3 linked regions of the Homo sapiens genome follow. The protein of the gene in region 3 purifies or fractionates together with the protein of the main gene of each other region. This does not show direct contact. Each region holds a gene or a part of one and is shown on either strand. Other genes may lie near its edges. The genes, in order: RHOU, DHCR24 and SLC12A2.

Region 1 (7,154 bases), on a different chromosome or scaffold from region 3:
AAGATTAATCTTTTGTTAAACAAAGAAATTTGTTAATTTTATTTACTAACAGGAATAAATAGAACCCCTAACCTAAAGTATAACCTGATCTTTTACTTTTTCTATAGAAAAACACAAACTGGATTTCTTTTTAACATAAAAAAGACAACACAAAACCCACAGAAAAATAAAATTCTTCTATCTAACTGGCTTTACAGATTTCCCTCATTAGTTGTGGATGTGACTTTGGTGGCTCTGGGTCACCCACCGCAAGCCCGACCCTGCAACTGAGTGTTCAGGCTGCCTTGTGGTGTCTCGGAAGCATTCCTACCAGAGTAAAAGCTATTCTCCTGAGATGGCACCTTTTTCTCCAGAAGATTCAGCCCTAACAGCTGCCACCTTGAAGGATGTATTTCACTGTCACAGGAAGCAGCCAAGTATGGGGGCCATGGTCCCGGCATGCACCTGGCTGGCTACACGCCCCGCCCCTCAGGAGTCCTCAGAGTCCACTGGCCTCTGCTGCTACTGCCCTGAAAGCCATCTGTGGCTTTAACTGGTTGTTTTAACAGGTTTCAAGAGATGTTCATTTTATTTTTTGTTTAGATTTAAGATGTCCTAAAAAATGTATATATTAAGATACACTTAAAAACATACTCTGAATATAATAAAAAAGATGTTGGTTCAAAAAAGGGTCAACAAGAAGAGGAAGCCAAGCTTCCTAGCATCTGTTTTTGTGGCCACGCTTTTCCCCATTAATGGTGTGAAAGTCTGAATCAACAGCAAATACAGCCATACAGACCTATGTATCTGTGTGCATGAGTGTGCATGGGTGTGCACACAGAGAAGTACATCTTGGCCGACTTAAGAAAAAATTATCTGTGTTGTGTCCCACAAACACTTGCTGTTGGCCTTTCAAGAGTATTCACCTCCCTGCCGAAGAGACAGCTTGAGTATGGAGGTTTAAAAACAATCCAGACAGGTGCTCCCTGTTGCCCTCGTTACCTAGGATTGAGGCAGTTTGGTGCACGTATTACAGTACCGAAAGCAAATGTCACTTTCTGATCTCCACAGGAACCACTCCCTAAAACATGAAACTACTGACCAACACTTGCTTTCCTCCGCATAGCACTTTGTCTGTGTTCATATGTGTCAACACAACTGGACTAAGAAAGAAAAGTCCCAATAAGGAAGTTTCCTTTTTTGACTACAGAGTGCCATACAGTCAGTGGGATGTTTTCTGTTGGTTGTTTTTAAATCATAAGTAACTGGGTATTAGCAATTGACAAAAGTGACTGGTTTGAGGTTTTGTAGGCAGAGGTCTCTCACTTTTTTTCTCAGATTTTTGCTCCTTAAAAAAAAGGCATGGTTTGCATGGAGTTTCAAAGCTAAGAACTATTGTTACCATGGTTGACCTGTGTACATAATGCACTGTGCATTAAGTAGCCCTTAATCAAGAGAGGGTTAACCATAGTGTTCCTCCCTTTTGCTCTTCTGTACATTATAATGTAGCAGAACTTCATTCTTAACATCCAGATTAGAGGTGTCTTCTTCATATTAGATATAAATTAACCAGAGGTCTAGAACTCTAAATTTCCAGAGATGTGAAAAATGTTTAATTTACTTCAAAAATATCTTGCATAAGTATCTCATCCCTAAGCTCAAACAAACAAGAAAATTAAAGGCAGAAAGAATACATAAAATTGAGAGCTCCTCCTATAATACATATACACACACTCTCGATATAGGTTCTACGCAGTAAAAGGAGTTGTTTCAGCTAATATAGCTTCTAATATCGATTTCATCTGAAAATAGCCTTTCTGGGTGTCTTGCCAGCATCATACGAAACAGCAGTACTTCTTCCACCAGGACTTGGAGAGGTTTTTCATTTTATCTGGAGTCCTGCTTTTAGACTTCTTTGGCTGTTGCTGAGTGTCCGAGTATTGAATGCCAGCGACGATGGCTGCATCAAAGACCTCTTTGAGGTTTTTTTGAGTCAAGGCTGAACACTCGATGTAGGAGGCGGCTTTGATTTCCTCGGCGCACAGCTTAGCCGCCTCTTCAGGCACTGGCTTTTCTTTGCATTTGTCCAACTCAATGAGGACTTTGACATCTTCTCTGAGATCCGACTGCGTTCCAACTAGGATGATGGGGGCTTTGGGACAGTGGCATCGAATCTCCGGCACCCATTTCTCACTGACGTTCTGGAAGGATGAGGGGCTCACGACACTGAAGCAGAGCAGGAAGATGTCTGTGTTGGTGTAGCAGAGAGGCCTCAGCTTGTCAAATTCATCCTGCAACCAAGCAAAGTACCCAAAAGTTATGTTTTCATGAATTCTCATCAGTAAAAAGATCACCTTCACATTTTTCATGAAAGGGTCTGGCAGGTGATAGAAGACCCGCTGGTTCTAGAAGGAAGAGCCAGCATCCTTGAAACGATCCTACTGTTTACCCAAGCGGGGCCAGTGCACCAGCGAAGGTGTGGCAGCCATCTGCTTTCAGGGCCAGCTATGGTCTGAACACTGCCAAACATGTTCAACGTGTTCATCGACACTCAAGACCTACTTACAGCTTAACATAGAAAAAGTGCTCAAAGTAGGTGGGTTCTAGAAATAAAATGGACTTAAGCCTTCAGCTGAGTGTAACCCAAACCTACTCTCAACTCTTGGTACTTAGCTACTCTTCTAAAATTCAGACCACACCCATATTGATCCTCAAGACTCCCACTCAAACCCAGTCTACGAACACAGCTCCTCTCTTTATCAATCCAGCCCTGCCTTTCCCAACAGCTCTGAGTGATGCCAATTTCATCCCATCTGCACTGTGCACACGCTCTGCCCACACTATGCACAGCAACGCAGAGTAATGCTAATCAGACTCAAGGCCAGACCAGAAATGGAGTTGAGGACCTTTGTCAGTCCATTGTCATCGTGACTCAGAAAACTTTTGCAGCTCAGTGCCACTTACAGACACTAGTTAATACATCCTCATTCTGGCTGTATCTTCTCTTCCTCCCTCCTTCCTTCATTTTCTCCTACTTCCTTTATCCTTGCCAGTACCCATGGCCTCCATGTACAGTGCTTTGGACAGATAAGAACTGGAGAATAGGCACGCCCACCCTACCCTTAAAGTATAGAGAAGTGGATAGAATAAGTTAGAGTTGATTACAAATAAACCAACGGTTGTGCTGCCAATGCTCTCCCGTGGTCATCCATTTAACAGACACACTGAACATCACCTACACTCAAGGCACAGTGGCAGGCGAGGGGATTTGGCTGTGAACAGACAGATGTTGTTCTCCAAATTACCATTTCTTTACAGAAAACATCCTATAGTTCCCTGTAGCACCATATTCAGCTAACTGACAACTTTTGCTCAACTCTTTTGTAGAAAAATATTTACTCTTTCCTATGTAAAATGTATATCTGTTGGTGCCAACCATCCTCAGGTATAAATAATTTCCCAATGACAAGAAAAAGTTCAACGCCATTCATGTTTTTCATTACTCAATTGACACACTCCGATTATTTACCAAGTACCATTTACATCACATTATACTCCATCCGTGGCTTTTTTCTCTTGGTATAAAAGAAACCTGTAACTTATTTGAATGTACTTTCTTCATTTGAGGCCCCATGTTTCAATTACGGGACGACAGCCAACCAACTAATCACATTAAAGTCAACCAGCTAAAATGCTCAGCAATCAATGTGGTATTTCAGAATGTCACTTGTGAGGCTTCTGTAAGCGAAAGTTGAAAAAGTATGACTTAGCCAAATGTGGTGGCACGTGCCTATAGTCACAGTTACTTGGGAAGCTGAGGCAGGGGGATCACTTGAGCCCTGGAGTTTGAGACCAGCCTGGGTGACATACCAAGACCCTGCTCTCTAAAAAAAATTTTTAAAAAGAAAAATAATGACTTAAGTTTCTTCATGCCAACTTTGTGATGAATAAATAAACACAGAAACACAGCCAGGTAGACTATGGCTCAGTCATGAAGATCTTTTAATGGAATGCTCCCTCTGTTCTTAGAGGGCCTCAAAGAAAGAAGCATAAAACTGAGACCAGTATTAAGGCAGCCCCCTCAGGTAGCTGCACCCCTGGCCATGCCCTGGTATCTGGGGTTGCATTACTGAGAAAAATAAAGGCAAGCACAAGGGCTGGGACTTCTGAGGGGGCTTTGGAAAGCTATCTCCCCAGATCTCTTGAGATTCTGGCTAAGGGGCTTGAGAAATAAAACAGAAATTAGACCCTCCTGCTCAGTGCCTGACCTGAAATCTTAGAAATAATGCAATACACACGTGCAATGAGGACAACTGGAATGCACCCTTAAGAAAAGGCGTTCTGAGGCCAAGCAATTTGCATGTGCTTGCCAGGTCTGTGGTACGGACACTGCACAGAAGTCTGATCAGGGTTGGCGGGGCAGAGAGACGAGACTGGATTCTACATCCCTCTGGTCTAGCTGCAACTTGATTTTTTTTTTTCAGTATAAGATTTTTCCAAGTACTTTATGGGTCAAAAGGCTGAAGAATTTTCAGCTTCTATTGGCAACTCTCCAGTGAACTACTCCTATTTCCGCAATACTTTTTTCTCTTATGCCAAAGGTATGTTTTTTCAAGCCTCCAGTCTGTCTCTGATCAATCTGCCCTTGAGTGATGTAAGACCAGTGTTAAAAACTCCTTTTGACATCTTATAGACTCGCCTACCCTCCCTAACAAGAAAAGCCAAAGTACAAGAAGTGATTTCTTCAGCATGTAGAGCCATCCATACTCTGCTCCCATCAACTTCTGTGGGAAACCCACACTCCAGCTCCACATCCCCAAGTTCTAGCCTATCTGTGCTCACGTTGATTCTCCAGGCATCTGAAGTGGAGGTCAGTGGAGTCACTTAACCCTCAAGGCTCTTATGTCAACTGCCTAGAAGAGGTATGTGTTCCTTCCTCCATAAGGAAACTTGGCAGGTATCACAGCAAGTCCCTTAAAATGTATTTTATCAGATCAGGACTAGGGAGAGTAGAAAAGAACTGCCACTTTGACCAGCTTGGCTAGTAGTCTAAACAAAGACTAATTTATAAATGGGGGATCAGGAAAACAAAAACAGAACAACTGACTTATCTTACCAGCAGCTTATTTTTCATAGTTTTTGAAGATGGTTCTTCTTCAAAAGTTTTGAAGTTGGTTCTAAAAGTCTACAAATTTTTAGATAGTGGTCTTATTCATTATTTAATTGGGTATACTCTTCTAACCAGTACACAAAGGTTAAGAAATACAGTAAATCTCATTGAAAATATTGCTAAGAGGCCAGAAGAATAATTTTCAAATAAACTGAAACTTACAAATGTAGCACCAAAACCTTCGTTTTTCCCTAATTATAAACTTTTTTGTGCAAAAATACTACTAAAGTGATGCTTGTGCTTCCCTGATTTTTAAACAGGAACAATTTAACTCTTCCTTGATGATTCAGTCATTTATGCAAAGTTCTTCTGGTAAAATTCCTATTTGTCTTTCAAAACTCTGCTCAGAGGTTTTCCTGCCAGGCCCAACCAGCCTGCACCTCTAAGCCCGAACCTCTTTTCTTCCCTTTGCTTGCTCCTTCACGAGCTTCCATTTGTCTTCCCTCCACACTGTAAGTCTATTAAGGGGCAGGCCCACAACTTATGTTTATACCCCCACCACCTGGTCCTTCTCTGGTTCATCCATTCTAAAACCACGAGATTAAGCCCTGCTATGTGCCAGGCACTATGCTGGGCACTGGGCATGAAACCCCAGCTCAAGAAGCTGCATCCTGCTTGAAGAGCCAACACTTACGGGGAGCCCAGTGGACAGTGATATTTGAGTGACATCCTGGGGCAGGTAGGTGCACTGAGCTTCTGCTCCAGCCCGTAAGGCTCCCTGCTAACTGTGCCTTTGGACTTCCTGTATTTTCCTGACTTCCATCTTATCCTCAGGGTCTGACTTCAGCAGGTCCGATGGCTATGTTTACTGACATGTTCCTCTGCCTGTGTTTTATTTTTTTTGAGATGGAATCTCTCTCTGTCAACCAGGCTGCAGGGCAGTGACGCGATCTCAGCCCACTGCAACCTCCGCCTCCCAGGTTCAAGCAACTGTCTGCCTCAGGCTCCTGAGTAGCTGCTATTACAGGCGCCCGGCACCACACCCAGCTAATTTTTGTATTTTTAGTAGAGACGGGGTTTCACCATCTTGGCCAGGCTGGTCTTGAACTCCTGACCTCATGATCCACCCGTCTCAGCCTCCCAAAGTGCTGGGATTACAGGCGTGAGCAACCGCGCCTGGCTGGCCATGTTTTAAAACTCAGAAAACCTGACCCCCTGGTAGACAAAGCATCCTCACTTCATACAAGGAAATGAAGCTTGAATTATAAATATCACCATTGCATTCAGAAAGATTCAGTGCTAGAAGTGACTGTATTCTTTGATTTTTCTTTTTTTTTACCCCCAAGAGATGGGATCTTGCTCTGTCGCCCAGGCTGGAGTGCAGTGGCACCATCATAGCTCACTACAGCCTCAAACTCCTGGGTTCAAGCGATCCTCTCACCTCAGCCTCCTGAGTGGCTGGTGGCTGGGACTACAGACAGTGCCACCACACCAGGCTAATTTTTTTATTTTGTAGAGATGATGTCTTGCTATGCTACCCAGGCTGGTCTCAAATTCCTGGCCTCATGCAATCCTCCCACCTCAGCCTCCCAAAGAGCATGAGCCACCACACCCAGCCTGATTTTTGTTTTCTACAGACAATACAATACGGACAGTGCTTGGTTTTTCCAAGCTGAAGTGCTCCCAAGCTATGGCCTGCACCAGCCCGGTGTTCCTTGGAGATCAAGGCTCCACGGTCTTATGTCATCTTCAGGTTTAAAAAATAAGATCTGTCCTTAGCTCTGAATCTGCTGTCCCAGAGTAGGTGAGCAACTTGGAAGCTCTGGCGTAGATGAGGCTCTGGGGGGCAGTGGAAAGCCAGTGCCTTCATAAACACAGATAGTCATGTGATGGCACCTCAGAAAGTGAAGGGGGCACTTTCACCTGCCTACAAAGTACCCCCGGAACTTTGCTGAACTCTAGAACATACTAGAGAGACAAGTTCATTAACTATCACTTTGCCAAAATCAAGTACCCCTGGGTGTTCACAAGGCACAGCCTGACTTCAATGACTCGAGTACCCACC
Region 2 (7,663 bases), on a different chromosome or scaffold from region 3:
CGAGGATAAGGAAACTCAAAAGCAAAATAACTTGTCCAAAGTCACACAATTGGTAAATGGCAGAGCTGAGATTCATAGCCAGGACTGTTTGACTTCAGGACAGGAAAGATAGATGGAGTTGTGGTAACAGTTCACAGGGTAATAGCTAACACGTATGGAGGCTTATCACATGCCAAGGCCTGTTTAAACATTTGTATATGTTAACTCATGCATCACTTTGAGGGGAAGAGGAGGAGCAGGGAAGGACCACCAAGCCAATGGAAGGAAGAGGTTTTACAAAACCTCTAAGGTAAGTGACCAGAGCACAAAACACAGAACAAATGGCCCATGGATGACAAGCCCATCAGAAATGCAGGAGGAAGTGTTTCTTTTCTGCTGAGATAGACAAGTGCAGGGGGGGTGGATATTTGTCATTTTGACCTGTGACCATCCATTTCCTCTTCATCCACTTCTAACAATCCCCATCTTCCTTTGGTCCAAGTGAGACTGATTCTACTCCCCTACCCCAGGAGGTGGGTACATGACTGAGGACTGATTCTATACTTCTGGCCAGAGACAGATTAATGACATCTCATTAAGTCAAGCCAATGAGACCAGTTCCAGGACAGCCACTCTCTCTTTACTGGGGTCGCTAAGCCGGTTGGATATGAGCCAGAAACTGTTGGGGCCTCTGCAGGGAGAGAGGCTCCAGAGAATGAAGTCAACCTAGAAAAGCAGGGCCAACAGATGGCAGAGGGATGGACAGATGGAGATGGGGGACAGAGGATCCTGGATCCAGCCATGCCTGATCCAGTTGTACTCCCAGACTTTTCAGGACCTGAGCCAATAAAATCCCTTTTTGCTCAAGTCAGTTTGAATTGAGCTTCTTTCACTTGCAACCAAAAGTCTGGTCAAATACTGGTCAGGTCTCCTGGAGAAGGCTGCACTGGAGCTGGCTAGGCAAACAGCTCAACACGGGGAAGGACTTTTCTTTGATCAGAGGCCAGGGCAGGTATTAAGGAAGAGATTCCTGTGATTTGGGGGAAAAGGGATGATAGGTAGGATTCCACGACCAACCAGGTCTCGTCCCTGCCTGAATCTGCAGCCACGGAGTTTGACACAAGCCCAGAGATGGGAGGGAGTGATTAGGGGTGCTGCACTGAAGCTGGAGGCCAAACAGAGAGCCCAGAAAAAAGGGCAACTAGGTCAGACAGCTATTACAAGCCAGGTGTGAGGCAACTGAACCAGACCTATAGGGGGGAAGGGAAAGCCTGGGAAAGAAGAAATGTCAGAGTTCAGGCTCTGAAATCGAGCTAACCTAGGTTCTAGCCCCATTTACTGACTAGTCTTCCTGAGCACATGACTCACACTCTGAAACTCAATTTTCCCTGTTTGTAAGATAGGCACAAGATCTACCAGGGTTGCTGTGAGGATGGCAATGGCACATGGCAGGTCTGGGGTAGAGGCTAGTCCAGCTGGGCCCCTGTTTTCCTGCTCACAGTGAATCTTGTGGCTTAGCCAAGATTAATAGGCACTCGCTAGGCTGTTTTGAGCCAGGCCCTATGGGCCACAGGCGAGTCACATAACAGTCCCTGCATTCTAGGAGCTCACAGTCTGACAGGGGAGACAAGCAGGTAAATGGAGAATTTGAACTCGAGAAAAGAGCTAGGAAACAGGGTGCAGGTGGGGAGGGAGGACACGCAGAGGCTCTGGAGCCATGACTGTGACCAGCAAAATCCAGAGCTACAGGGCAAAGCACTTCCAGACACTGCGTTCTCCCACCAGGCCCCAGGTCTTATGCCTCATGGGAACGTCTCTCCGCATCCATCTTCATGCTCTTGCCTGAAGCACCCAGCGCGGAGCAAGCAGAATATGGAGGCTGCTACACCTACGGAAGGGTGGCAGCAGGAAACAGAAGCTCTCTGCAACCTGATGCCAACAAGAGAGGAACATAAAGAGAAGCAGAGGGAGTCAAGAAACTGCCCAAGTCCCTGGATGCAGAGGAGGCTCCACTGTGAGCCACAGCAGGTCACAGGCTCCGTGGGTGCCTGAGGAACTGAGAGATGGACCGACTGCCTTTGTCAAGGAGTGAGCCCTCCGTCAGCAGAGGCTGTGAGGTTCTTCCCTCCCGCTTCTGGGCTGGGTTCTACCTTCTTGCTTTAGTCTTCTATCCTAAACCCAATCAAAAGCGTCTTGCTGTACAAAATAAAGTCCAAACTCGGCCTTGGCATCAAGGCCCCTCTCCAGCCTAGCACCAAACGGACTTTTCCGACGTTCTCCCGCCCCTGCCCTGCACTTGTCGGCTTCCCAGCATTTGCTCACACCAGTCCCTCCACCCACACACCTTCCCCCAATCATTTCCCATACTTCCCAATCTCTAGACCCAGCTCCACCTCCCGGAAGCCTTTCCTTCTCTGAAATGCTTGGGCCGGGTGAGAGTTACCTGAGTGCTTCGCACCTCCCCCTCTTCCCCTTCTTCATCTCCCTCCAGGTACCCGCATATGCCCTGCACACAGTGGGCACTTTGCCTGTTCTGTTCCCCCGCCCCCATCACATTTTTGTTTCGTTCCAACCCCTCTCCAACGCCAGCTCCCCACCCCCCCAGGAAGTCCTGGCCGCCCCCGCACCGCAGCTCCCGTCGCCACCTCGCGTCCCGCTATCCCCGCGCACGCCGCCTCCGGCCCTGAGTCCCGGCCGCACCCGGCGCCGCTCACCTGCTTCTGGATGTCCCGCACGCGCTGCTCGTGCAGGCGCGGAGCGCTGCTGAGCTTGAACACCACCCAGGCGCGCACGTAGTAGTAGATATCGAAGATAAGCGAGAGCGGCAGGAGGAAGAGGCACACGAACACCCAGCGCTGGTGGATGAGCACGAACTCCAGCCCCTTCAGGCGCACCCACAGCAGGAAGAGCAGCGCGCACACGGCCAGCGACACGGCGGGCTCCATGGTGCGGCGCCGCGCGGTAAGCGCTGCGGGTTCGCGCCTCCTGTCACTGCCGCCAGCTCCGCGCCTGGCCCGCTCTGCGCCTGTAGCCCACAGCCCGGGGAGCCCGGGATCGCCCGCCGCCTCGCGATTGGCTCGGGTCGCCGAGGTTCGGTGGGCCGAGACCCGGGCGGCGACCAATGGCGAGCCGCGCCGGGGATCGGACCAGGAACCCGCAGCTTTCATTGGCTGCGGGAGTCGGACCGCTCCACCCTTTTCTCCCCGCCGCCGCGCGAGGCGGGGGTGCCAGGGACTGGGTGCCGGTGGGGTCCGCTGCGAATACTGGGGGTGGGCAGTTGGGACTCAGGGCCCCAGGCCCTCGGGGCTGCGGGGCCGCCTCTTCCAAACGCGCCTTAAGCGGTTTTGCAGTGGCTTTCCGCCGGAGGGCTGGGAGGCGCCCCGGCCCTGAGTCAGTCACCCTTTGGCCGGACAGGCGGTTCCCGGGCGCGGAGGATGGAAACCTGGCGGTAACCTCTGCAGGTCGTGCCACTCGGTGTGCGCAAGGTCTCCAGAGGCATCTTTTCATTTTTAGGGGGCACTTTCCACGAATTCATTTGAGCTACACAGCAGTCCTGGGCAGTGGGGAGTGGTGAGCTCCATTGTGTACACTTGGAAGCAGCCCAGAAAGGTGAAGACCTGTTCGTGAACTCCAGAGGCCATTGGAAGCATGGAAGGCTATGGCTGGCACTCTTCCTCTTTTTCCAGTTCACTGAGGCAGATGGGAGGCCCGGAGGAGAAAGAATGAAGGAAGGCATTTCAGCCCGAGTAAACTCCCCAGGCCCGCTCTGTGCCAGGCAGTGTTGCAAGCCTCGGGTAGGGTGGTGAGCAAAGCAGATGGCCCTGCCCTCACTCAGCAACCAGTGTAGGGGAGCTGCCACGGTTACCAGCAAAAGCTGAAATCCAGCGCCATTTGCATTTCATATGGAATTTTAGGAAGTTTTCGAGATGTTTTAGTTTAGAAGCTAAACATGACATACCAGGTTCTTCTCTGTCTGGCCTTGCATACCTATCCAGTTCCCTCTCCATTCATCTCTGCCCTGACATGCACTCAGGAGGCTCCCTGGGCCTCAGCATTCCTCATTTGCGCGCCTCTGGTCAAGCTAGTACCTCTGAATGCCCTTTCCCATCCCCTTCTCAGAGTTCACCTCACACATTCCGAAGCCAGCTCAGGGCCACCTCTGAAACATTTAGAGCACTCCCCTGCCCATCCAGATGCTCATTAAATAGTGTGCATCTCTGTCACCGTTCTTTCATGTTATTTTATAATTGTCTCTTTATGTGTCTCTCACCCCCACAGACTGAGCCTTAGGGCAAACAATGTCTTGTTCACTTTTGTCCTTCCAGCTTCTAGCACGGTGCTTTGTGCACAGTAAACACTCCAGCGGCTGTTGACCAATGAATGAATGAAGATTGTAGGCTCAAATATTCAAGTTATCAAAGTGCAAAGAATGAGAGGTTGTTTGCACTGGACTTCAAAAATAAATAGCCTGGACCTGTACTGTCTTACACAACAGCTATGAGCTACTGGTATGTGGCTAGTCCAAACTGAAATGCCCTTTAAGAGTAAAACACACACTGGATTTCAAAGACTTAGTACAAAGAAAAAATGCAAAATAGCTCATTAGTAATTTTTATGTTAATGACATGTTGAAATAACATTTTGATATATTAAGTAAAATATAGTATTAGAATTAATTTCACCTGTTTTATTTACTTTTTTAAGGTGGCTACTAGAAAATTTAAAATTACAGATTTGTCTTGTATTACATCTCTAGAAGCTCCAACCAACAGGGGGACAGTGAAGTATGAAGAGGAAAGCCAATGTGAAAAATGCCTCTCCCCGATTCTGTCTGACTCTGTTAAAGAGGGCTTTGCTTTAGAAGCTTAACCATTCTGATTATTTTGGGGGTGTGAGGTAATCTGGAAAGTAAAATTTACCTAAAAATTAACTGAAGAGTGTTGTGTAGGAGAAACAGTGGAAATTACTGGTTAATCAGAATAGTTTTATACTTGGGAAGAGAAGGATGGAGTCCCAGAAAGTAGATACAACTGATCTTTAGGAAACAACTCCCAAAAAAGGAAAGGAATAAAAAAGTACTCAGGCTGGGTGTGGTGGTTCATGCCTGTAATCTCAGCACTTTGAGAGGCCAAGAGGGGCAGATTGCTTGAGCCCAAGAATTCAAGACAAGCCTGGGCAACATAGCAAGACCCTGTCTCTAAAAAAAAAAAAAAAAGAATAAAAAAAAAAGCTGGGCATTGTGGCATGCACTTGTAGTCTCAACTACTCAGGAGGTTGAGGTGGGAGGACCGATCACTTGAGCCTGGGAGGTCAAGGCTGCAGTGAGCCATGATCACGCCACTGCATACTAGTGTTAGCAACAGGCTGTCTCAACAACAAAAAAGTGAAAAAGTACTCAGAACAATTGTTTATTCAGTGTGCACGTTTCTCATTCTCTCTTCCTGCCTACCCTCCTCATATTTCTGATTCTTCTTTTCTGTCTCCCCAAACTCTAATCCTTTGGGTTGCTTTTATCCAGGTAAGGAAAGCAGTCACTTGAGTTGAGCCAATCAATTAATTAATTTTTTAAGTTAACATATAGTAAAACTGCTTAATCTTTGTACAGCTGATGAATTTTAGCATGATGAGGATTCCTGTAACTACTACCACAATGAGGATACAGAATAGTTCCACCACCCCAAAAAACTCCCTCTGCTGCCCCTTTGTAGTCATACTCTCCCCTACCTCCTAGCCCCTGGCAATCATTGCCCTGTTCTGTCACTATAGTTTTGTTTTTTTTCCAGAAGGTCATATGAATGGAATCATATGATATATAACCTTGGACCTACTAATTTTTGCTGGAGTCAAAGCAGCTTCCTTTGTCAGGGAATCTATTCATATTATACATTACTTACAGAGTTGATGGAGCATGCAGACAGTCAGAATGCTTAGGAATAGGATGTTCTGGGCAAGAACTTTTCAGGTTAACTAGGTAAACCCCTTTTATAGTTTGACCACGTAGCAATCTTTCTACAATGTGAGCCTCTATTTCTTTCTTAATAAATAGAGTGTAAAGAACAGTTTTTTTTTTCTTCAGTAAAGGAGCATGATAAATACCAGAGTCCTAACAAATTGCATTTTCTTATATTTGTACAGTGCAGCTACTGAGATCATTTGATCTTTGCAACCAGTCTCAGGAGTGGCAATGCAGGGAATTAATATGTATTTTTTTTTAAATAAATGGGGACATTTAGACTCAGGTTAAGTGACTTACCTGATCAATGTCTTATTCTGGTGAATAGAGAATTCTAATGCAGTTGGTCTGCAAACTACACTTCACACAATAATCAAGGGAGCAGATTCAAATGATGGAAAGATCCAGAAGTTGGGAGCCATTCATGTGGTTCCGTTCCATAGATATGAAGTAGAAGTTTTAGAACAGGGTTTGTTGAAGTGTGGTTTGTAGACCAACTACATCAGAATGCTTGCTAAAATGCAGAGTCCTAGACTCTACCATATCCCACTGAAGCTAAATCTCCAGAAGTGGGGCCAGAAATCTACTTTTTAAGAAGTCAGCTACGTTATTCTTATGCATGCTAAAATTTAGGAGATTGGACTGAGTATTAATCCTGGAACTTCTTTAAGAATATTACCTTTGTTTGGCCAGGTGCGGTGGCTCACGCCTGTAATCCCAGCACTTTGGGAGGCTGAGGCGGGAAGATCACAAGGTCAGGAGATCAAGACCATCCTGGCTAATGTGGTGAAACCCCATCTCTACTAAAAATACAAAAAATTAGCTGGGTGTGGTGGCGGGTGCCTGTAGTCCCAGCTACTCAGGAGGCTGAGACAGGAGAATGGCGTGAACCCAGGAGGCAGAGCTTGCAATGAGCTGAGATCATGCCACTGCACTCCAGCCTGGGCAGCAGAGCAAGACTCTGTCTCAAAAAAGAAAAAAGAAAAAAAAAAATATATATAGTATTACCTTTGTTTTCTTTGTTTTAAAGTAAAGCCCTAACAGGCCAAGGTTGGTGGCTCATGCCTGTAATCCCAGCACTTTGGGAGGCCTGGGGGAGGTGGGTCACTTGAGGTCAGGAGTTCGAGACCAGCCTGGCCAACATGGTGAAACCCCGTCTCTACTGAAAATCCAAAAATTAGCCTGGCATGGTGGTGCATACCTATAATCCCAGCTACTTGGGAGGCTGAGGCAGGAGAATCGTTTGAATCCGGAAGGTTGAGGCTGCAGTGATCTATGGATAGCACCACTGTACTCCAGCCTGGGTGATAGACTGACCCTGTCCAAAACAAAAAAGAAGTCCGAATGCAGATTGACCAAGAGTTGGTTAATTCATTGGTTCAGTGACAATTTGAAAGACCCAGTTCTTTTTATCTTTTGCCTACTCTGTCTTCTCAGGTTAACTCCCCTGATGAGGGCAGAGCAGCCATGTTCCAGGTGCTACATCATATACAGCAACATCTAGCAAAATAAGGGGAACCAATTTCAGATGGAAATTAACCATTTCTGCAGCACATTCATTCAATGATTTTAAATGTGCGGGAATTGTGCAAAATGCTGGGGACACAGTAGTGAATTAGACACAATTCTTTTCCTGACAGATCATGTGTGGATCTAGGCAATCAAGAATTAATTATAAATCAACATCATAAGTACTATGATAAGGGTATTATGGAAGCACATGAAGATATC
Region 3 (8,040 bases):
GAAACATTACAGAAGGTGTTAGAGAGGTAGAAGTCAATTTAGACAGAGTAAGGGACAACTTCTGGGGATCCAGCCAACCTGTTATAACCCCTCCTGTCTGCCCCTCTTTCGACAGTGATGTATAGTCATATTTGTACTACTTAACACCCATTTCTTTAATCCATCTGCTAAAATTCTAAGCAAAATTATCTTCAACATGTAGTTATTAGTTAAGCCAATAAAACAGTGGCCATAAAGATTATGAGTGGCAGAAGGTAAACTACAAAGAATTAAAGTACCTGTTGCATAAATGAAACTGAACATAATATTTATATACTACATTCACCTAATAACGTAAGAATTAACAGAATCTAAAATTGAGATCCTAGAGTCTTCTGAAGGGCCAATATAAGAGGGAAATAACAACTAGGTATTATTTTCCAGGCACTGAACATGGTCATTTTTATTGCGCTTTTTTTCTAATCTTCATGATAACCCTGAAAAGCTGAAGCTAAGAGGTTGGGTGATTTCTTCAACTACCATACAACTAACAGTACAGGTGTTGTTTTTTAGATACTTTGAACCAAAAAGCCAAGCAAAAAACACAAACACACAAATCTAAAGTTTTGGAGAACTTGAAGTGCTTTGTTATTGAGATAATTTAATTTAAAGTAGCAAAAACTTCCCTAGGAAGCATATAAGCTCAACATATATACCTTTCAATTGGATGTCTTTCTAAAACTTATGGGTAAATACAGATCACTTTACTGCTCACATACTTGGCTTTGGTAAAATAAATCTAAAATATATCTGTATAATATTTTCATTAGTAAAACTGTCCTAAGATAATGAAAATTGCCAGCTCCATATCTACTTTTGTCTACAATGATTTTTGAGTTTTGAAAAGAAAAAAGAATAGACTTGATAGAAACTACAGGAGTATGAATAAAAAATGTTTTAGACATTGTTTTGCTTCTGATTATGACAAAATACCACAATGGAATAACAAGAATAGTATTATCTAAAGCTAAATGATCTCAGGCTTTTAAACAATCAATAAGCTGTAAGAGCTCTGTAATTACCTCTGTGTGAATGTTACATTATCAAACACTGGGACAAGTACAATCTTGTATGAAATCACTGTATGAGATCAAATAATCATATCCAAAAGAAATCACATACTGGATTTAAACTTGTCCAAACTGTGATCATTTCAACCTATGTGGTACCATCCTCTTGCGTTCACAAATTCCATCAATGTAGTCATTACACACTTGTAAAGGAAGACTTCAAGTAATCCCGGCTCATAAAAAAGTTAAACATTAACGAAATCTCAAAAGCATCAATGTTATCTCAAAACAGTGACATTGAACGCTGAAGAAATAAGTCTTATGTGACCATAAAAAATAGTTACAAAAATCAATGAGTTTATGGGGATGGTTTTCTGTTTACAAAGTGTAACTGCTTATGGCAAAGACCCCACAGGTCTTTCTGGTCATCCTCTACAGAAAAACCAATTCTCCTGTTTCCCTTTTTTCTTTAAAGACTCGCCTCTGTCCCTTTTTTTTTAAATATACACCTCTCCCAAAACGTTTTCATCGCAAAAAAAAAGAGTTATGCCATTATTAGGAACAGCGTGTCCCAAGACAAGATCTCTATGATCCTTTGTATATTCAAGATTGCAAGAATTGAGCTTTAATAACTCATAGACCATAAACACACCCTGTTAAGGTTTTCCTTCAAACAGCAACATTCCCACTCTTGCGATCCCTAATAGGCGTACATAAGCCACACAACACAATCTTTCAAAACGACACAGATGGTAGGTGCTCTCCAACCTCTCTCGAGAGATCCTCACTGCACATTCTCCTCTAAAGGGCCCACAAACACTACTGTCATTCAGAGGGATGGTGACTGTTGAGCGTGGGTGGGAAAGAAAGTGCACACGAGATACCTAACTGGATGGGGAAGGTTGTTAGAGGCAGCCCTCCGGTATCACGTAACTAGCCAAACCCGCTACAAACTTTTGAGAGATTAAGTTAACATTCCTCGGCAATTCCACCCTTGACAGCTGAATCCAGAGATGCCAGCAAGTCGTGCACGTCTACTACTCCCGCCACCTCAACTCGGGAAGAGTCTGCAGCCACATCCCGCGGTCGGCATGCACCAGGGGCTGGGGAAGAAGGGAGGGCTGGGCGAGCTCACCTTTTCCAGCTCGTCGTGGAGCTCCGCCAGGCTAGGCCGGAGCAGCTTCTCGCCCAGCTGCGCGGCTGTGTGCCGGTAGTGATCGATCCTGGGCACAGCGTCCATGGTGTTGTGGCCGAAGGTGCGCAGGTAGTAGGTGTTGGTGTGGGTATCATAATAGTAGTGCTGGTGGTGCCCACTGCCGCCGCCGCCGCCGGAGTGCAGGCTGCTGCCCTCGCTCAGCACCGTGTCCCCGCCGTTCTGGAAGCTCACGTTGGGCCCGTCGACTCCGACCCCGGCAGCATCTGACAGGCTGTCTTCAGCCGACGAGGAGGCAGCTGGGTCCACGAAGTTCACGCGGAAGCGGCCCTTGGCTTCCTCGCTGCCTTTAGCCGGCTCGCTCTCGCCGCTGGCTTCCCCGTCCGCGGGGGTCTGCTTGGCCCCCGCCCCAGCACCAGCCGCCGCCGCTGCCGCCGCCGCCGCCGCCGCCGCAGCAGCGGCCCGCCCGGCGTTCTCGGAAACCAGGTCCACCTGGAAACGGCTCTGGCTCGGGGTGGGCCCCAAGGGTCTGCCCAGCCCGTCCCCGGCCGCCGCGGGGCCCTCATCGCGGACCCCGCCGCCGTCCCGGCTCGCGGGCGCAGCATCCTCCGGCACCGAGGGCACAGCCGTGCCGGGCAGTTCCACCCTGGCTGCGGCCAGCGCAGCGGCTGACGGCGTCTCCCCGACCCCGGCCAGTCCCGGGGCGCCGGAGGAGGGCGCCGTGGGCCGCGGCTCCATAGCTGCCCGACCCCCGGCGGAACTGCAGAGCCCGGCGGACGTCTCCGGCAGCACGCCCTCCACACCCCTGGCCGGCGGTGGCCACAGCCGCAAGACCAGGTGAGAGAGTCTTTCTCCCCGCCGCCTGCGGGCCGCCGCTAGCCTGGACGGCCACAGAGGCCACCGGCAGCCGAGCGAGCGCGCGAGTGTGGCGGGCGCGGGGCGGGCCCCGCTGTTTAAAGCCTCGGCGGGGCTGCGGCGGCGGCGGCTCCGGCAGCAGCACGCGGGAGGCGGGGCCGGAGGCTCCTCCGCCCCTCAGCCCGCCCACCCGCGGTCCCGCAGCGGCGCGCGGCTGACGCTCCCTCAGCGATCCGGCCCTCCGCGGCTCCTGCGCGACCCCACGCAAAAGCGCCCCGTGCGAAGAGCGCGGCCAGCCAGTCCGCAAAGGGCCTCGGGCAGTGCGGGCAGCACGAACGGCGCGATCGGGGAGCAGGCGCGGCTACGCTCCGCCTCAGTGATGTCGCCGGGAGGATCTCCGCGCGGCTACCTCCTCTTCCGCCGCCTTCCTCCCACGCCTTCACCTCCCTCCCCCGCCGCGCTCTGCGGCGAAAAGGAGCGGGCTCCCAGGCCACCTCCCCTCTCTCCACCCAGGGGCCGCGCGTCAGTGGACCTGCAGCCCAGGCAACGGGGCTGCGGACGGCGCGCGTGCCCTGCCTCGCCTCACGCCGGTAGCTGATGCTCCCGCGGCAGCTGCCACCCCAGCGCCCCAGCCACGGCTTCAGAGGCTCTCGCACGCTGGCTTTTTTTTTTTCCCCCCGCTTTGGTGAACTCGCAGTACTTGGGCTGAGCCCGAAATCTCGCGAGATGCTGCAGGCGTCAGTGCGGCTTCCCACTAGGCGCGTGGTACCCGAGGCCGGGCCGGAGCCGCAGGCCAGCCGCGATTCCTTCGGGCGATGCTGGGGGCTTTCCGGTCGGGGCCGCAGCCGCTTCCGGAGCCGCGGGCGAGGTGCGTTCCCCAGCCTGGTTTGCTCTGGGCTCTGACCCGCCGCCGCGAATCTCCGCTCGTAACTCCGGGCCTGAACCTGGAGGAGGGAGGATTTCCTCTGTGCAGCTTTCGAGCGGTAGACTCACCCTGCCAGGCAGACCTAGATTGGCATAACCAGAGATCAGTTCCAGTTGTGATGCAGTGGGTGTCTACACACTTCTGATGACACCTTTATTTTAAAAGCTGATGTTCCAAGGTGAGAAGGGAGCTTCTTTGAGACGTCATGTTGTTTCAAGACGAGTTTTAATTTAAGGCATTTCCAAAAGTGATATGCAGCTCATCTCTCAGAATACAATGCCGGCAATAACTACCCGTGGAGTCCTTACCAGGAGGTTTCTGCGTGATTTGGGTTGTGCAGAATTCCTCTGCTTATATAGAAACAGAAAGGTACTCCTCTGCAGGTCTAGTTTCTCTTCGGTAAAATGTAAGGGAATATAACTGTGTTCCCACTTTCTTAGCAGCAGAAATTTTTAAACCTATAGATTATGCCCAAAGTCCTAAGTAAAATCAATGAATGGCGTCCTCCAATTACTTGGTTTTTATTTATGTACTTTTTTTTTTTTTTTTTGAGACGGAGTCTCGCTCTGTCGCCCAAGCTGTAGTGCAGGGGTGCGATCTTGGCTCACTGCAAACTCCGCCTCCTGGGTTCACGCCATTCTCCTCCTGCCTCAGCCTCCTGAGTAGTTGGGACTACAGGCGCCCGCCATCACGCCCTGCTAATTTTTTGTATTTTTAGTAGAGTCGGGGTTTCACCGTGTTAGCCAGGATGGTCTCGATCTCCTGACCTCGTGATCCGCCCACCTCCGCCTCTCCAAGTGCTGGGATTACAGGCATGAGCCACCGCGCCCGGCCCTTGTATTTTTAAACTTTGACTTTATGGAGACGAACACCATCGTTTGCTGAACACTTGAAACATGATGAAAGAGCCACAGAGTTGGCAGAACTGTTTGAAAATGCTGTAAGTAAAAGCTGCAACCAGGCAATTTTCAAAAAATTGTCATAAACATGATCTTACTTGAACTTGACAACTTTTCAGGCTATTTTATTATCTCTATTTTTAAAGACGGTGAGAGGGGAAAACAGCTGTTGCATCAGGATTTTTAAAGCTCCTTTTGAGCTTTAGTAATAACCAGAGGAGGCCAGAAAAATGAGGTGGTCCTTTAAGCAGTGCAGTTTTCTACTAGGGAATTGCTGCATTAGTAGTTGATCCGTGCAGTACCTTTCAGCTCCACAACGAATTCTGCCACTATTGGAATTCAACATTCATTTAGTTGAATAAATACTGAACAGGTACTATGAGCTACTCTGTATTTACGGGATATAGCAGTGAGCAAAACGGACAATCCCATCTCTCATGGAGTTCTTTCTAGTGAGAAAGAGAAACAATAGACAAGATAAATAGGTAAAATACATAGCATCCAAGCAGTGAGTACTAAGGAAAGGGAAATGGGATATTTGTGTGAAATGAGGATCATAAAATTTTCCATAGGATGGCCTCACTGAGAAGGTGATATTTGAGTAAGGAAGTGAGTGATATGAGTTCTTGGGAAAAAAAGTGTCTGAAGCAGAGGGAAACCAAAGACCCAAAGGCAGGAGCATGCTTAGCATGCTCACGGAATTGCATGTAAGCCAGTTTGGCTGGAACTTGCTTAAGAGATGTGAAGAATCAAAGGCAATTACATCAGAGAGCTTAGGATATGGGATGTAGTAGATCAGAATGTTTAGGACCTTTTTTGGCTGTTAGACATACTTGACTTTTTTAGTAGAATAGTGTGTTAGTCAGCTCAGGCTGCCATAACAAAATACATAGATTGGGTGGCTCAAACAGTAGAAATATATTTTCTCACAGTTCTGCCTGCTGGAAGTCTGAGATCAGAATGCCAGCATGATCATGTTCGGGTTTTCTTTTTGGCTTGCAGACAGTACCTTCTCAATGTCTCCTCAGATGATAAAGAGAGCGTTGTCTCTTTTCTTATAAGGGCACCAGTTCTGTGGAATCAGGGCTTTACCCTGATCACCTCATTTAACCTTAATTATCTCCTTAAAAGGACTGTCTCCAATACAGTCACATAGGAGTGAGGAGAGGATTCGGGCTTCAACATATTAATTTAGCAGGGTACACAACAGTCCTTGGCAGATGGCAGGTTATTGGAAGGTTTCAGTGGAGGAATGACATCTGCCATTTTTAAAGGATTCATCTAGCTGTCTTGTAGGTAGGCAAGGGATAAATGGTTGGGTCAAAGAAGCAAGGAGATGTGTTAAGAGGTATTACAGCAATCCAGGAAGTGATGATAGCGCTTTGACCACAGTGGGTATCAGTGGAAATGGGGAAAAGTAGTTGAATTCTGGGGAAACAATAGAATTTGCTGATGGATGTGAAGTGTGAGAGTCCAAGGGTTTTGACCTCAGCAACTGGAAGAATAGTATTGCTATTTTCTGAGATGGCAAAGGAGGTTAAAGGAACAGGTTTGGGTTGGATGAATATCAGGAGCTTAGTCTGAGATGTCTGTTGGAAGAAACACACAAATGTGTATTAATAATAAATAGTAGTCACTCATATAAATTTGTAACTGCAAACAGAAGTTCTAGGGGATAGGAACGTAGTATAAGGAAAATGCAAAATAGGCCAGACTTAGTCAAGACAGAAGTGACTTTTTAGCAAAGGTCTAAAGGAAAATTAGGACCAAATTGTCACTAGAGGGTTTCCAACAAGGGAAATATTGTGGACAAATGCCCTCATGGAGTGAGCAGGGACTATCAAAGAAGCAAGAAGCTTGAAATCAGTTTGGTTAAAGCATAGGGAAGGATTGGGGGCAAAAGTAGTAAGAGATGTGTCTGTATTCTAAAAGCCCTATAAAAGCATTAATGGGTTTCTGGATAGATTGAGGGGCACATAATCAGATTTGTGCTTATTAAAACTCTCTAGGCCTGGCAAGGTGGCTCACACCTGTAATCCCAGCACTTGGGAGGCCAAGGCGGGTATATGGCTTGAGCTCAGGAATTCGAGACCAGCCTGGACAACAATAATGAAACCCCATCTCTACCAAAAAAACCCACAAAAATTCAAAAATTAGTGGGGCGTGGTGGCACGCACCTGTATTCCCAGCTCCCTGGGAGGCTGAGGTGGGAGGATCACTTGAGGTGGGGGTTGTAGTGAGCTATGATTGTGCCACAGCACCCAGCCTGGGCGACAGAGTGAGACACTGTCTCAAAAAATAAATAAATAAAAATAAAACTAGTTATATTATGAGCAGAAGAGTGGAGAAGAGGAAGAATAAGCATGGAAAGTCAGGACACAATTTCACTAATCTAGCTGTGAGTTGATAGTAGTAATAGTAGTTAGCCTTTATAGAGAATTTAGGTCCTGGATACTGTGCCAAAATCTATACATTCATAATCTTACTGAATTCTCGCAACACTATGAAGAAAATCATAAGATTACATCCATTTTACAGATGAAAAACTTGGTTAAGGAAAAAATAAGTAATTCCAACATTAATGAGCACATAAAAGACCTACAAAGGTCAGGAGGTGAGAAGAAAATCAGATGAAGGCATTTGAAAACAGGATCAGCTGTGTTAAATTGGGCCAAGAGGCAGAGAAAAATGAGTTGAATATATATTGACTTTAGTAACATGTATTAGCCAACAAAATGAGAGAGCAATGCAGTGAGGGGAGGGCCACAAACATTCCAGGAAATATCAAAGTGTATTATGTGAAACTTATGAAAAATTTATCAGGAGAGATCTCCTTTACTTAATTGTTGGCAAATATTTCATTGTCAGACTTACCAGGTGTCAGTTTAGAGACTAACCTTGAGAACAGACTTGCTATCAGTGCCGTGGTGGGAACCTGACTGATTTTGCTGTATTTCCTTTTTGCCACAAGGCCAGCCTTTGACATTGTGTGTGTCTGAGTACTTACTAATATTTATTTCATGTAGTTGGAATTTTAGGATTAGAAGTGACTTGCGTAGTTGTTTTCCAAACTTCTCAATTCACAAATGCCAAAGTATCCTAAAAGAAGATATAAATTATGTTAGACCTACAACTTCTCATATCTGCAGCATCAGAGCA

Evidence for each region.
Region 1: the proteins of SLC12A2 (region 3) and RHOU purify together in Homo sapiens (affinity purification with mass spectrometry; 2 studies listed by BioGRID and IntAct, with this or other methods). This does not show direct contact.
Region 2: the proteins of SLC12A2 (region 3) and DHCR24 purify together in Homo sapiens (affinity purification with mass spectrometry; 2 studies listed by BioGRID and IntAct, with this or other methods). This does not show direct contact.

Annotation. Positions count from the first base shown.
Region 1 is NC_000001.11:228,738,401-228,745,554, reverse strand, and holds part of RHOU (rho-related GTP-binding protein RhoU), read right to left. Parts: intron 2,271-7,154; coding exon 1,815-2,270; 3' UTR 1-1,814. UniProt on the Homo sapiens protein: Binds to and activates protein kinase PAK1. Plays a role in the regulation of cell morphology, cytoskeletal organization and focal adhesion assembly during cell migration. Also stimulates quiescent cells to reenter the cell cycle.
Region 2 is NC_000001.11:54,884,196-54,891,858, forward strand, and holds the start of DHCR24 (delta(24)-sterol reductase precursor), read right to left. Parts: upstream 3,001-7,663; 5' UTR 2,925-3,000; coding exon 2,694-2,924; intron 1-2,693. UniProt on the Homo sapiens protein: Catalyzes the reduction of the delta-24 double bond of sterol intermediates during cholesterol biosynthesis.
Region 3 is NC_000005.10:128,078,855-128,086,894, reverse strand, and holds the start of SLC12A2 (solute carrier family 12 member 2), read right to left. Parts: upstream 3,130-8,040; 5' UTR 2,941-3,129; coding exon 2,185-2,940; intron 1-2,184. UniProt on the Homo sapiens protein: Cation-chloride cotransporter which mediates the electroneutral transport of chloride, potassium and/or sodium ions across the membrane. Plays a vital role in the regulation of ionic balance and cell volume.